Linked DNA regions of Homo sapiens. The protein of the gene in region 1 purifies or fractionates together with the protein of each later gene. This does not show direct contact. Each region holds a gene or a part of one and is shown on either strand. Other genes may lie near its edges.

Region 1 (3,573 bases):
GTCTCATTCCTTATTGCCTTCATGGTTTCTAAGTGTGTTCATAATGTCCTTGTGGATTAATCTACTAGGGCAGCCATAACAAAATACCATAGACTGGGTGGCTTAAACAAGAGGAATTTATTTCCTCACAGTTCTGAAGGCCACGTCCGCGATCAAGGCATTGGCATAGTCACATCCTGGTAAGGGCACGTCCTGGCTTGCAGACAACTGCCCTCTTGCTGTGTCCTCACATGGCCTTTCCTCTATCCACATGCAGAGAGGGAGCTCTCTGATGTCTCCTTCTCCTCTAAGGACACCAGTCCTGTTAGATCAGGACCTCACCCTCATGAACTCACTTAACCTGAGTTATCTCCTAAAAGACTATATCTCCAAATACTGTCTTTTTAGGGCTTAGGGTTTCTTTCTTTCTTTTTTTTTTTTTTTCCTGAGACAGAGTCTTGCTCTGTCACCTAGGCTGGGGTGCAATGGCGCGATCTCGGCTCACTGTAACCTCTGCCTCCTGAGTTCACACAATTCTGCCTCAGCCTCCCAAGTAGCTGGGACTACAGATATGTGCCACCACACCTGGCTAATTTTTGTATTTTTAGTAGAGAGGGGGTTTCACCATGTTGGCCAGGCTGGTCTTGAACTCCTGACCTCAGGTGATCTGCCTGCCTTAGCCTCCCAAAGTGCTGGGATTACAGGCGTGAGCCACCGCGCCCGGCCGGGTTTAGGGTTTCAACATGAATTTTGGAGAGAAACAGTTAAGTTGATAGCATTCATAGTAGCTTCTGTGCAGTGTAGGTGGATCGGGGAAGGTCACAGAATAGGGAAAGCAGGTTGCAGTGGTGGCTGTGATTGTTTCTAAGAAGACTGACCTTGTTAATGTTTGAACATAACTTTTTTTTCAGGCTTGGAAGCGTTTGTGTCTGCTGCCAAGAAGCTACCACGAGAAGATGTGTATGATGTTGTGGAAGGGTATATAAAGATTTCTGTTGAGTGTGTCGAAATTTTCCAGCTCCTAAGTGGAGAGAAACGACCTGAAAGTGAAGTAAGTTGTTCCTTACATGGCTTGATGAAGAGAAGAAAAGTTAATGCTGCTGTTAAGTTTGATGAGGAAAAATGTGATAGAAATTTCCATTACCAACTTTCTATAGAAAATGATGCTTTGTCCCTGTGCTGTAGGAATGTATTCATTTTTTGCCTCCATGACCTTGAAAGCATTTTAGTGGAAAATTCTCACTTATTATTAACATTTGATGAATGACATCAGAAGGAAGGATCATAGATTCCTAATCAAAATATACTTGGTTTCGGTATGGTTTATTTAAACAAAAGGGAAACACATAAACATGTGGTGTCACAGACTCACAACACATAATGAATTGATGATTGTTTTCTGATTCCAAAGAGATTGAACATTGGGATATTGATGCGCCTGTTGAAATCTCAGGGTTATTGCTATAAGGATGTAGATCTGAATATCTCTAAAGGAATGAGACCCAGTCATTAAGAGAATTTTCTTCTCATTTGATTTTCTGTGATTGTAAACAAGCTGTTCTTTCTTTCTTTCTTTCTTTCTTTCTTTTCTTTTCTTTTCTTTTCTTTCATTTTTGAGACGGAGTCTCACTCTGTTGCCCAGGCTGGAGTGCAGTGGCGCAGTCTCGGCTCACTGCAAGCTCCGCATCCTGGGTTCATGCCATTCTCCTGCCTCAGCCTCCCAAGTAGCTGGGACTACAGGCGCCCGCCACCACGCCTGGCTAATTTTTTGTATTTTTAGTAGAGACGGGGTTTCACCGTGTTAGCTAGGATGGTTTCAATCTCCTGACCTCGTGATCTGCCCACCTCAGCCTCCCAAAGTGCTGGGATTACAGGCGTGAGCCACCACGCCTGGCCCTAACAAGCTGTTCTTTATTTTGCTGGACTATGGGAGTGGGGCTACATGCAGGGCATGGGTCCTGCAGATCAGCCTGCCAAGCTGTCGCGTTTGACTCAGGATCTGGGTGGGCGTCATCCTGCATGTTGAAGGCTTTAAGCCTACAAGTAACTATGGCTAAGACAAAAGGAGCATATATGTACAGGAGGAAAGGAAATGAGACGATTTCTAAGCGTTTCAATTCTGTCTTTGCAGACGATGTTAATATTTCAAGTTTTCGAGGCCATATTATTGCGGACAGCAAGTGATCTTTCACATTTCCATGTTGTGGGAACCAACATTGTGAAAAAGCTGATGAACAACCACATGAAGCTCATCTGTGAGTCCCTGTATGCCTCAGGTTACAGGTAGGCAGTCTGCCTTGGTGTGACAAAGGATGGGCCTTTGGGTTTGGTCTGCATTCAGCTCTCCGCAGGTGCATTTGGTCAGTACCTTTATGGCTAGAGGAGAGCTGAGCTATTTCCGAGGCCACAGTGACCGAGTCTCTGCCCCCTTCCTTTGTGGACCAGCCCTGGCTGTCCCTGACTCCTCTCTTACTTACCCCTTGTCCCTCTTGTCCTGCCTGCTACTGTCCTTGCTGCTATTATCTGTTGAGTGACTCCCTCTACTGGAATCCTATAGGTGCATGTGGCAGGGCCTTGCCTGTGTTATAAAATGCCACCTTCCCAGCACCTAGAACAGGGCCTTGCATGTAGCAGGTGCTCAGAAAACCATGGAATCTGGATAACCGCAGAACGGAAAGACAGCCAAGAGCTCGCATTCAGAGATGCCTTTGTGAAGAAGTCGTCCTCTGTATTCTGCAGTCACAGGGACTGAGGTGTGGTCTATTGATCACACAGTGGCTCACTCCAGAGAGAAATGTCCATCTTCTTCAAATCTTGTGTTTATATTGTTAATCCTACTTAGTTTTAATTTTTAGCGTTATTTTGAATCTTTATGCTTTTTTTTTTCTTTTTCCTTAAAAAAAGAGCATGTCTTTTTCCTTCTTTTTTTCTGGTTTGGGGATAGCAAATAACACAAGCAGCTTGCAGCTGGCTTTGTGGTGAGGCGGCTCTGTGCTTCTGCTGTTGTTGACGTGTCCGATTTCCTCTGGTTCCCTGTGCAGGTTGGCTCGCGCCTGCCTGAGCCTGATGACCGCCATGGTGACCCAGGGTCCGGAAGCTGCCAGGGACGTCTGCAGCCATTTTGATTTGAATAAAAAGACCCTGTACACCCTGGTGACCAAGAGGGATTCAAAGGTGAGGGGACCACAGTGTCTCGTGCCTTCCATGGGTCTCCTTCCCTTGGAGGACTGTAGTGGTTTTTCCTCCATTCTCTGCCCCTGATCCCCACACAGATGAAATGAGAGGTGTCTATGTAGAAAGGTGTGTGTCAGCAGCCACAGGATCTGTCTGTGAGGACAGGACTCGCTTCAGGCTGGCGATAGGGCCAGAACCTGGCAGAGCCTGAACAATGGGGATATCTGAGGAGGCTCCTGGGGGCTGAGTGGCACAGGGCCTTCCTGGTTGTGAGGATGACTTAGCTGTGGGCATCTCCTCTCCTGGTAAATGAAATACCCTCCATGTGCCCATGGCCCTGAAGCTTGTAGTGTGTGCCAGTCCTCTGTTCCTGTTCTGCCCACCTCGGAGAAAGCCCTTGAAGCTCTAAGCCAGTGACGT
Region 2 (3,573 bases), on another chromosome or scaffold:
CCATATCCTGGCCATCTTTATATCCCTCCCACCTAACATGGTATGAGATCCCTCATAGATATATAGTAGAAATGATGTATGCAAGAGACAGGACAAGTTGGTAGACTATATTATTATTATTATTATTGTAAAATACATAACAACATTTACTATTGTAAGCTTTTTAAAGTATACAATTCAGTGGCATTAAATACATTCAAGATGTTGTACAACCATCACCAACATCCATTTCCAGAACTTTTTCATTGTCCCAAACAGAAACTCTGTACCCATTAAACAGTAACTCCCCTTTCCCCCTTCCTCTATCCCTTGGTAACTACTCTTCTACTTTTTACCTCTCTGAATTTGTCTATTCTAGATAGCCTCATTTAAGTGGAATCATACAATATTCTTTTGTATCTGACCTGTTTCTCTTAGAATAATGTTTTCAAGATTTATTCATGTTATTTTCAAGGTTTATCCATTTATTTCATTCCTTTCTAAGGGTGAATAGTATTCTGTTGTATGTATATACCACATTTTGTTTATCCATTCATCAGCAGATGGACATTTGGATTGTTTCTACCTTTTGGCTATTATCAATAATGCTGCTGTGAACATTAGTGTGCAGGTATCTGTTTGAGTCTGCTTTCAGTTCTTTTGGATATATACCTAGAAGTGTAATTGCTGGGTCATGTGCTAATTCTGTATTTAGCCTATTAAGGAACCACCAAACTTTTCTACAGTGGCTGCAACATCTTACATTCCCACCAGCAATGCATGAGGTTTCTGATACCTCCCGTCCTCACTGACATTTGTTAGTTTCTGTTTTTTAAAAAAATTATAGCCATCCTAGTGGGTATGAAGTGATATTTCATTGTAGTTTTGATTTGCATTTCCCTAATTACTACTGATGTTGTGCATCTGTGCATCTTTTTATGTGCTTGTTGGCCATTTGTATATCTTCTTTGAAGAAATGTCTATTCAAGCTCTGTGCCTATTTTTTAAATTGAGTTGTTTGTCCTTTTGCTGTTGAGTTGTACATATTGTCATTTTGAGAGAGTGTTAGGGTTTTTTGTTTTTTTTTTTCTTGGAAGACGTTTTATCATGTTGCCTAGGCTGGTCTCAACTCCCGGACTCAAGCGATTCTCCCTCCTTGGCCTCCCAAACTGCTGAGATTACAGGTGTGAGCCACCATGCCCAACTGAGAGAATATTTTCAAAAAGTTTCCTGAGAAATTATGTGCTTTCCTTTGGGAGGCCGAGGCAGGCGGATCACTTGAGGTCAGGAGTTCAAGACCAGCCCAGCCAACATGGTAAAACGCCATCTCTACTGAAAATACAAAAATTAGCTGGGCATGATGGCGGGTGCCTATAATCCCAGCTACTTGGGATGCTGAGGCAGAAGAATCGCTTGAACGTAGGAGGTGGAGGTTGCAGTGAGCTGAGATTGGGCCACTGCACTCCAGCCTGGGTGACAGAGTGAGACTCTGTCTCAAGTATGTGCTTTCTATTATAATAGTCTGAGTTTTATGTGGCCCAGCCCTGGAAGTTACCGCCAGTCTCACCGGTGGCTTCCTAATTGCAATTGAAGAAATGGGAAATAAAGTAACAAGTAGCTTCCCCACATGCTGACACTGGCTAGACTGACCCTCTTATCACATGCCTTCTTCCTTTCTGTTCTAGGCCATGGGTATCAATGATCTGCTGTCCTTTGATTTCATGGATGCCCCACCTATGGAAACTTTGATCACAGCCATGGAGCAGCTGTACACACTGGGGGCCCTGGATGACGAGGGCCTGCTCACTCGCTTGGGCCGCCGGGTAAGGGACAGACTCAACTTCCTGTGCTTTTGGGAAGATTCCCTGGTCAGCCTTTCACATCCTTCGGTCTGTACAAAATCAGGCTGAGGCCGTGGATAAGCTTTGAGTAAAATTCTAAATGTTTGTTTTTAACCTGAATTTCTCCACTGTCACTTTAAACTGTTTCTTCTTTATACAAAAAGGTGTTCTGTTCATAATTTTGCCTGAGGATGTATTACTGAATGTAGCCTTAATTAGAAACGGCATCTGCAAAATTCTCATCTACCCCAACAGTAGTTATATGCTTGGTCACATACATCCCGTTGGAGTTTATTTGGGAAAAGAATAAACAACAGCATTCTTCTGATAGAGAAAGGCATCCCAAGGCATCATTATGCTTTGGGAAAATCTGTGTTGTTACCCACTCTGACCAAGGTCTTGCTCTGGTGAATCCAAATGTGTCTTCCACAGGGAAGCAGTTGTAGTCTTTTTTTGTCCCTCTAGATGGCAGAGTTCCCTCTGGAGCCAATGCTATGCAAAATGCTCATCATGTCTGTGCATCTGGGCTGCAGTGAGGAAATGCTGACCATTGTATCCATGCTGTCTGTGCAGAACGTCTTCTATAGGCCCAAGGTAGGAAGTTCAGATCCAAGTTTAGATGGGGGTGCCATGAAGTTGGGGTAGTTGGCCTGTTGCCATTCCAATGCTTGATGTGGACTTTTTTTTTTTTTTTTTTTTTTTTGAGATGGAGTCTCACTCTGTTGCCCAGGCTGGAGTGCAGTGGAATGATCTTGCAATCTCTACCTCCCGGGTTCAAGCAGTTCTCCTGCCTCAGCCTCCAGAGCAGCTGGGATTACAGGCGTGCGCCACCGTGTGCTGCTAATTTTTGTATTTTTAGTAGAGACAGGGTTGCACCATGTTGGCCAGGCTGGTCTCAAACTCCTGGCCTCAAGTGATCCTCTTGCCTCAGTTTCCCAAAATGCTGGGATTACAGGCCTGAGCCATCATGCCTAGCCTGATGTGGACACTTTTGATAGGGTCTTGTAGGGCTCCCTAGAATTGCTCCATGTTCAGTTAGTAGCTGTTGAGTCGGAAATGTTCCTCTGTCCCACTGCTTGGCAGGATAAACAAGCCCTTGCAGATCAGAAGAAGGCCAAATTCCACCAGACTGAAGGGGACCACCTCACCCTGCTAGCTGTGTACAACTCCTGGAAGAACAACAAGTTCTCCAACCCATGGTGCTATGAGAACTTTATCCAGGCTCGTTCCCTGCGCCGGGCCCAGGACATTCGCAAGCAGATGTTAGGCATAATGGACAGGTAAGCTGGAATCTGATGACTCTGCATGTTTGAGTTGAACCACCTTGAGTATCATGTCTTTTCATCTCTGTGTGTACCTATAAAGCTATAGGCACCTTTTCTCTTGCTCCTCACATAACCCTTTTCCTCCAGCTTTTCCATCTTTGTTATATTCCTTCTCCCCAAGTAAGGGTATGCCTGAGAATTACCTCAGATACCTAAGAGGAAGATTATCTGTTAGTTGTTGAAAAAAATGCTCTTTGTTTGCAACCCTCTGGAACATTATTACTGTGGAATTGAATACCTGTCTAAACAAAGTGTCTGTCTCTGAGTGCCTCCGTCTGCCCACTGTGTAGAGCTGCCTCTGTAGTACACTTAGGGCTGGAAGGAAGGTCCTGGTGACTACTCTGGGCACCCCAAGATGGATGTGTTGGGCACTGTCATTGTGAAAATAGACCTGTGAAAGCTGAGTGGGCTCATATCTTTTGTCCTAT
Region 3 (2,581 bases), on another chromosome or scaffold:
CTCTTCCAAAGAAGTTATATCTATAAAATCTAGTTTTATGCAGGTTTGTCACAGCAAATGTAAAAGCGGATTCAAGAAGAATGAACTTAAAAACTGTGGAGCAAATTTTTGTTGAAAATATATAAAGTCAGAAAGAAAAAAGATGTAAATGTTGGAAGAAGCAAATTCTATTACTAATTCAAATGAAACTAAATGTCAAACACAGTACTTGTGTCAACTATTTAGCATCCCAGATTTTGTAACATATTTTGCATAAATTATTTGCTCTTCAAAAATTTTTGTCATTTTAAATCTAATTTTAATCTTTATGTTTTCCATTTTCTAATTTCCTTGCAATGTATTATTCTTATTCTTAATTCTCTACATTGAAATTTGGCTTTACGTCGTTAGCAAATTTATAAAGGGTTATAAAGCTATGATTCGTGAGTCTAAAATCAAATGCAAAATTTTATTTATTATGTAAACCAAAATGTCATTTGCAAGTTTTCTCATTAGAAGTTATCCTTGCAAAGATAGAAAAAGAAGAATTAATTTGTGTAAACAAGCACAAATTAACATATTTGTTAATAAATAGGTTTATCTACTAATAAACCTATTTCTAGACACATTCAAATTGATAATGATTTTTAGAAATGTTAAGGTTCCAAGGAGTCTTACAAGTGTATGCCCTTGATTTCCTGAAGGAAACCACTTTCTTTCTTAAATATTTTAAATTCATCTAAAGTGAACGACTATAAATAGAAGCAATCACCTTGGAACCACAGCTCTGTGCAACCAAGGCCCTAAGCTACACCAAATACGCCAGGAATTTTGAGACTTCTCATCTTTAAATTCAACCAAAAGGGTCTTTAGCAAGAAAAAAAATGCTGGATGATGATTATTATTATTTTTGCTTAATTTTTATTTTGCCATGTCCAGGTTAAGGGTGAGGGTGGTGACAATCTGAAAGACTGTGTCTGGAATCTTTATCACATATTTCCAATTTATTTCAGTTTTTGTCTAAAACTTGCATTTCTAACCTATCTTTTCCAGCATTTGATAATCTCCCATTTCCTCCTTCTAACCCCCATTCCTATGTCTCCCTTCCTGTCTATTCCTCACCGATTTAAACAACTGAAATGTTTACTTATGTTTGGAGCTGAAAAATGGAAAGTTTCACCCAGCATGGTTACAATAACAGCCAGCAGCTGCAGCAAACCATAAAGTTATGCAGTGTTTTGAAGTTCACAAACCACATTTTACATAAATTATCTCATTTTGTCTTCATAACAACCCTATGAAGACACATTAATCTCAAAGAAATTGAGCTCTTACCCCAAAACACAGGGCCAATAATTGGTGCAGTTGAATTATTCTCAAAATTTACAGGCTGTTAGTCTTTCCACTGTACTAAAAGATTTCTTTCTCTGATCAGAGCAAGAGAACTTCCAGAGATAATGGATAGAATGAAAGAATATATATCTATATATATTTGACATGTTGTTTAGTAATCCCTATTTTAATTCAATTCTCCATCTGTAAAATATTAGCTAACTGAATTATTTCTGTGTTCTACTCTGGGCTCTCACATTAAAACTCTGTTCAAAAAGTTTAACAAGTCACATATTTCTTAACATACAAGTTCGTTTGTGAATGTGCAGAACAGATGCTCCCAAGATGTGGATGCATGTAGGCCCCGAGGTACAGACATAAAATCAAGGAAGCACAAGGAAAGAAACCCCAAGGAAAAAACCAAAGACCTTCTAAATTGAGACTGCATAATTATAAAAGAGATCCATAGTACAGGGTTGAACACATGTTCAACACTTTGTCAACTGAACACATGTTCAATTCGGAGCTAATTGGGAAGACTTACATAAAATTCTTTTTCTTTTTTTCTTTTGGCAAGATTTCTTCTTAAACCATGAAATTTTTTTTACTTGTAATAATAGAGAACAATTTTCTCCATTTTCTTATAAGAAAAATAAAATATAATTTATCCAAATTGATGTATAGAACCTAAAACATATGCTAACTTGCAAATAATATATTTTACTGATCAACTCATTTTTGTCAAGTCTCTATTTCTAGTCCCTCCTGAATGTTTTGGAAAACCACAAAACTATACAGATTAATACAAATTACATTTTTACAAGGAAAGAAAACATTCCCAAATTTAACACTCAAGACTAATCACATAATCCTATTTTGAACTCAGATCTCTCTGACTCCATTGACTGCTTAGAAATAGTAAAATCTTTTTGAAAAAAAAATTTTCTAAAATAAAACTATTGTATATGAGAGTAAAAATATATTTGTTTTTGATTGTTCCTGACTAGAAGACAGATATCATCTCTCAAACTAAACACTCAAAATAAGAAATTGAATTCATGAAAACCAATACCTGATGTGAATTGTTGTTATTCAACTGTATAAAAGAAATGCAGATGTTCTGGGTATGTCAGAGCATGCGAAAGAAGAAGTTATGGGACTGGCAGGTATTTGGCCTCAGGAGAAAAGGTGAAAATTTTCCAGAATAGATATAATAACATCTTATATTGGCACAGCTCTTAACAGTTTATAATGCTGGGTAATATAACAA
Region 4 (3,573 bases), on another chromosome or scaffold:
GGTAGTATCAGAGTAAAACAGTCCCCAAACAAGCCTCTGGGCTCATTCTCAGATCAGTGGGAGTCTTCCCTACTCTGGAGAAAAGAGGATGTCTGAGGCAGCATCAATGTTCCTAGGAAGACCCTCGCTGCGAGGAAGAGGCTTCAGCTTAGACAGCAGAGTCTTACCCTCCTCTGGGCCCATTAGCCCCACAAACAAAATGTTCTCTTCTCACCAGGGGACTACTAACCTGCTCAAGGCCCAAAGAATAAGGGATCTTGGAGTCTGAAATCTTCATTCTTGCAACCTTAAGTCCTCATCATCTGTAAGCTGATGTTCGTTCACAGGTGAACTATCTGTTACACCTACCAGGAAGAGTCAGACCTTTGCCCCTGAGTGGTCCCATCTGTAATTACAATAGACCAAACATAATTACTTAATGGATCAACTTCTCTGATAGAGGAAAGGCAGGAAGAGAAAGAGCGAAGCTGTCCTGTGTTCACACTAATGTCCGTGTTTTACAAGGTGACAGGTGTGTGAGCACCAGGAAGGATACATGATATCCATGATAGTGGCCTGATAGCTATGACACTTGAACACAGTGAAGAAAGTGCAGGGCACAGGGCCAAGAAGGAAATCTGAGGAGAGAGAGGTCACCTTGGGACTTGAGTAATGGATACTTCAGACTGGCTGTTTTCACTCTAAACCCTGGGGGTTACGCTTCCTCAGCATGCTGCCTGTATATGCTTTATCGGTGCTGATGCCCAACCCTTCATCTTTAAAGTCTTGGGACCACTCTTCTTTGGTGGTTTCCTCTTGCTCAGGGTAGCTATCTGCACTGAATCCAGCATTCTCTGCCAAGACAGCAGGATCCTCGTCTTCATGAAAACAGCAGGAACATGTTTCTGGCTTTGGATCACACGAGGTAACAGAATTATCTTCCTGGGCTCTGGGGTCAGTGGGCAGACTTTCCCAACCCAAATGATCTGATTCTTCCTCTTCTATCATTCCCATTCTTTCAGCTATTTCTTCAGCAGAAAGTTCTTTTGGGTCAGGGTAATCCACCAAGATTGTTTCTTGCCTACGCTTGATACAGTCTGAAAGGTCATAAATTGGGTAAGTCTCTTCAGGGTAACCTAGAGAGAAAAGTAGCACAAAGTATTACAAAGAATGTCTCCTCAAAAAAAAAAAAAATAGTGTCAGGTTCAAAGAGGATTCTCAGGCAGCAGCCATCCTATCCTAACAAATCCATTCAAGACATCTCTAAGATTCCAATAGTTCTAAAGTTTTACTTGAGCAAATTCTTAGCAATCTGGCTATCCCAGTGCTCTTTGAAATACAAACTAATTCAGATGAAAATCCCTTCTTATGTGTAGGGTGCTTGGGGCAGAGTTAAGTCTTATACCATGTGTTTTTGCAGTACTGATGAAGATTAAACAAACAACATGAGCCTTTAGTTAAAACAAAAAAAGCATCAAAACCAGACAGAGACAGCACAGCTCCAGGCTAATGTTTATAATTTCTATTTGGAACAATTTCCAAATCTTCCTTGGTGGAGTGGGGAGAGGAAAGGAATGCTAAGCTCTTTGAAAAATACACCATGAAGCTTTCTATTTATCCAAACAATTGAAATGGCTTGCAAGTGTCAAAAATAGAGAGCACTTTAGCAAGGCATGCCCAAGATCCCGAAAGGACAAGCACTGCATTTTCGGAAGACAGAATTCCTGTTGTTGGCTTCTTCATCTTCACAAAATGGAACAAAAGAAAACAACAAACTGGCAAACAAAATGAGTAACACTGGTACTGAATCCCAGCTAGGATAATGAGAAAAGAGAAACTGTTGCCAAATTACCAAACTAAATGAAATAAATCTGTGTCCGCCAAGCAAGCCTGAGCAGCAGATGGGCCGTGCTGGAGCTCACACACCAGTACTGGCACCAGCGGCCGTAATCACGATACAGTGCAGAAAGCTGGAGGATTCAGAACCCATTTGCCCATTATGATAATTGGCAAATTCAACCCTAACGTAAACCATTTTTTGCCTACAACTGTGACAAATAAGTCTTTTTTGGTGCAATGTAGGGTGTGTGTGGAGACATTTCTACATTTACTGCTTTTTCTGACTATAAAAATCATACAGACTCATTTGTAGAAAATTTGAAAAAAATACAGGCTAGTTTAAAAAAGAAAACACAAATCACCCATAATATCTTCACTCATAATAATTTGCTTTTTTCTGGTCTTTTTTTAACCGTATATACACATATATTTTCTTTTCTTTTCTTTTCTTTTCTTTTTTTTTTTTTGAGACGGAGTCTCGCTCTGTCGCCTGCCCAGGCTGGAGTGCAGTGGTGCAATCTCGGTTCACTGCAACCTCTGCCTCCCCGATTCAAGTGATTCTCCTGCCTCAGCCTCCTGAGTAGCTGGGATTACAGGTGCATGCCACCACACCTAGCTAATTTTTTGTATTTTTAGCAGAGACGGGGTTTCACTATGTTGGCCAGGCTGGTCTCAAACTCCTGACCTCAGGTGATCCACCCACCTCGGTCTTCCAAATTGTTGGGATTACAGGCATGAGCCACCGCGCCCGGCCAACATGTATTTTCTTATTCCCCTTTTTTAAAAAGAAGGATCATATTTGTGTATAAAAGGTTATATCCTGATGTTTTTCAATTCAACATTATATCATGAGCATCTCTCCATGTCATTAGGCATTTGAAAGTTGGTTGCAAAATATCTCATCATATAGCTACATAACTGACATGATTTACTAGTCCTCTTTTCTAGGGCATTTAGATTCTTTCCAATTTTCCCCTATTATAAGTAGTATACAAGTTAAGATTTCTTAATATAAATCTATGTCCACTTCCCTAGTTCTTTAAGATAGACTTCTATAAATATGAAAACTAGACCAAAGGGAATGGACATTATAAAAGCCTTTTTTATACTGTGCCAAATTACTTTCCAGAAGAGTGGTATAAATTTTCAATCCTACCAGTGATATAAAGACTGTCCATCTTATGACACCCTCACCAGCACTCACAGTAGTATGTTAAGAATTTTGCCAATGCAGTCTTTATTCCAAGGCTTAACTTACTGCGGATGGAATGCTAGGTAAAGTGGAGCTTAGCTAACCCAAGACCCTCAGCCACCATGGTCAAGGATAGGATCTGGAGAAGCTGCTTGCTAGTCAGCTCCCAGCCACTGAATGCTTAAAAGAAGTCCATTTGCTGGCATGTCCCTGTCTTCCCACACTTAGAACAAAGCTTATCTTTGAATTTTCATGACTATCTGCTTTAAGAGGGAAGGTCACCCAGACTCAGGCTCTCAGCCTACCCCAACACCAGGCCTCAGTCCAGCTCTGCATCCCTAGTCATAATGCCTGCACCCACAGACCCAGCCTCCATGCTGGCCCCTGCAGATACAGACTCCGGGCCCACCCAGCATCAGGCCAGCAACTATGGCCCCAGAATCCAGTCCCACCCTAGGTTCCAGACAAAACCAGAGCCAGGTCTGCCCACATAGCCCAGTGCCAAATTGGCACCCCAATGGCACCCAAATTGGAGCCTGCAGACACAGGCTCCAGGCCTGCCC

What was found.
Region 2: the proteins of URB1 (region 1) and DHX8 purify together in Homo sapiens (co-immunoprecipitation; one large-scale study listed by IntAct). This does not show direct contact.
Region 3: the proteins of URB1 (region 1) and LRRTM3 purify together in Homo sapiens (co-immunoprecipitation; one large-scale study listed by IntAct). This does not show direct contact.
Region 4: the proteins of URB1 (region 1) and RIC3 purify together in Homo sapiens (co-immunoprecipitation; one large-scale study listed by IntAct). This does not show direct contact.

The regions. Positions count from the first base shown.
Region 1 is NC_000021.9:32,383,002-32,386,574, reverse strand, and holds part of URB1 (nucleolar pre-ribosomal-associated protein 1), read left to right. Parts: intron 1-890; coding exon 891-1,030; intron 1,031-2,110; coding exon 2,111-2,262; intron 2,263-3,020; coding exon 3,021-3,153; intron 3,154-3,573.
Region 2 is NC_000017.11:43,518,466-43,522,038, forward strand, and holds part of DHX8 (ATP-dependent RNA helicase DHX8), read left to right. Parts: intron 1-1,664; coding exon 1,665-1,802; intron 1,803-2,285; coding exon 2,286-2,414; intron 2,415-2,903; coding exon 2,904-3,100; intron 3,101-3,573.
Region 3 is NC_000010.11:67,099,506-67,102,086, forward strand, and holds the end of LRRTM3 (leucine-rich repeat transmembrane neuronal protein 3 precursor), read left to right. Parts: 3' UTR 1-2,046; downstream 2,047-2,581. UniProt on the Homo sapiens protein: Exhibits a limited synaptogenic activity in vitro, restricted to excitatory presynaptic differentiation. May play a role in the development and maintenance of the vertebrate nervous system.
Region 4 is NC_000011.10:8,110,023-8,113,595, forward strand, and holds part of RIC3 (protein RIC-3 isoform a precursor), read right to left. Parts: intron 1,116-3,573; coding exon 676-1,115; 3' UTR 1-675. UniProt on the Homo sapiens protein: Molecular chaperone which facilitates proper subunit assembly and surface trafficking of alpha-7 (CHRNA7) and alpha-8 (CHRNA8) nicotinic acetylcholine receptors.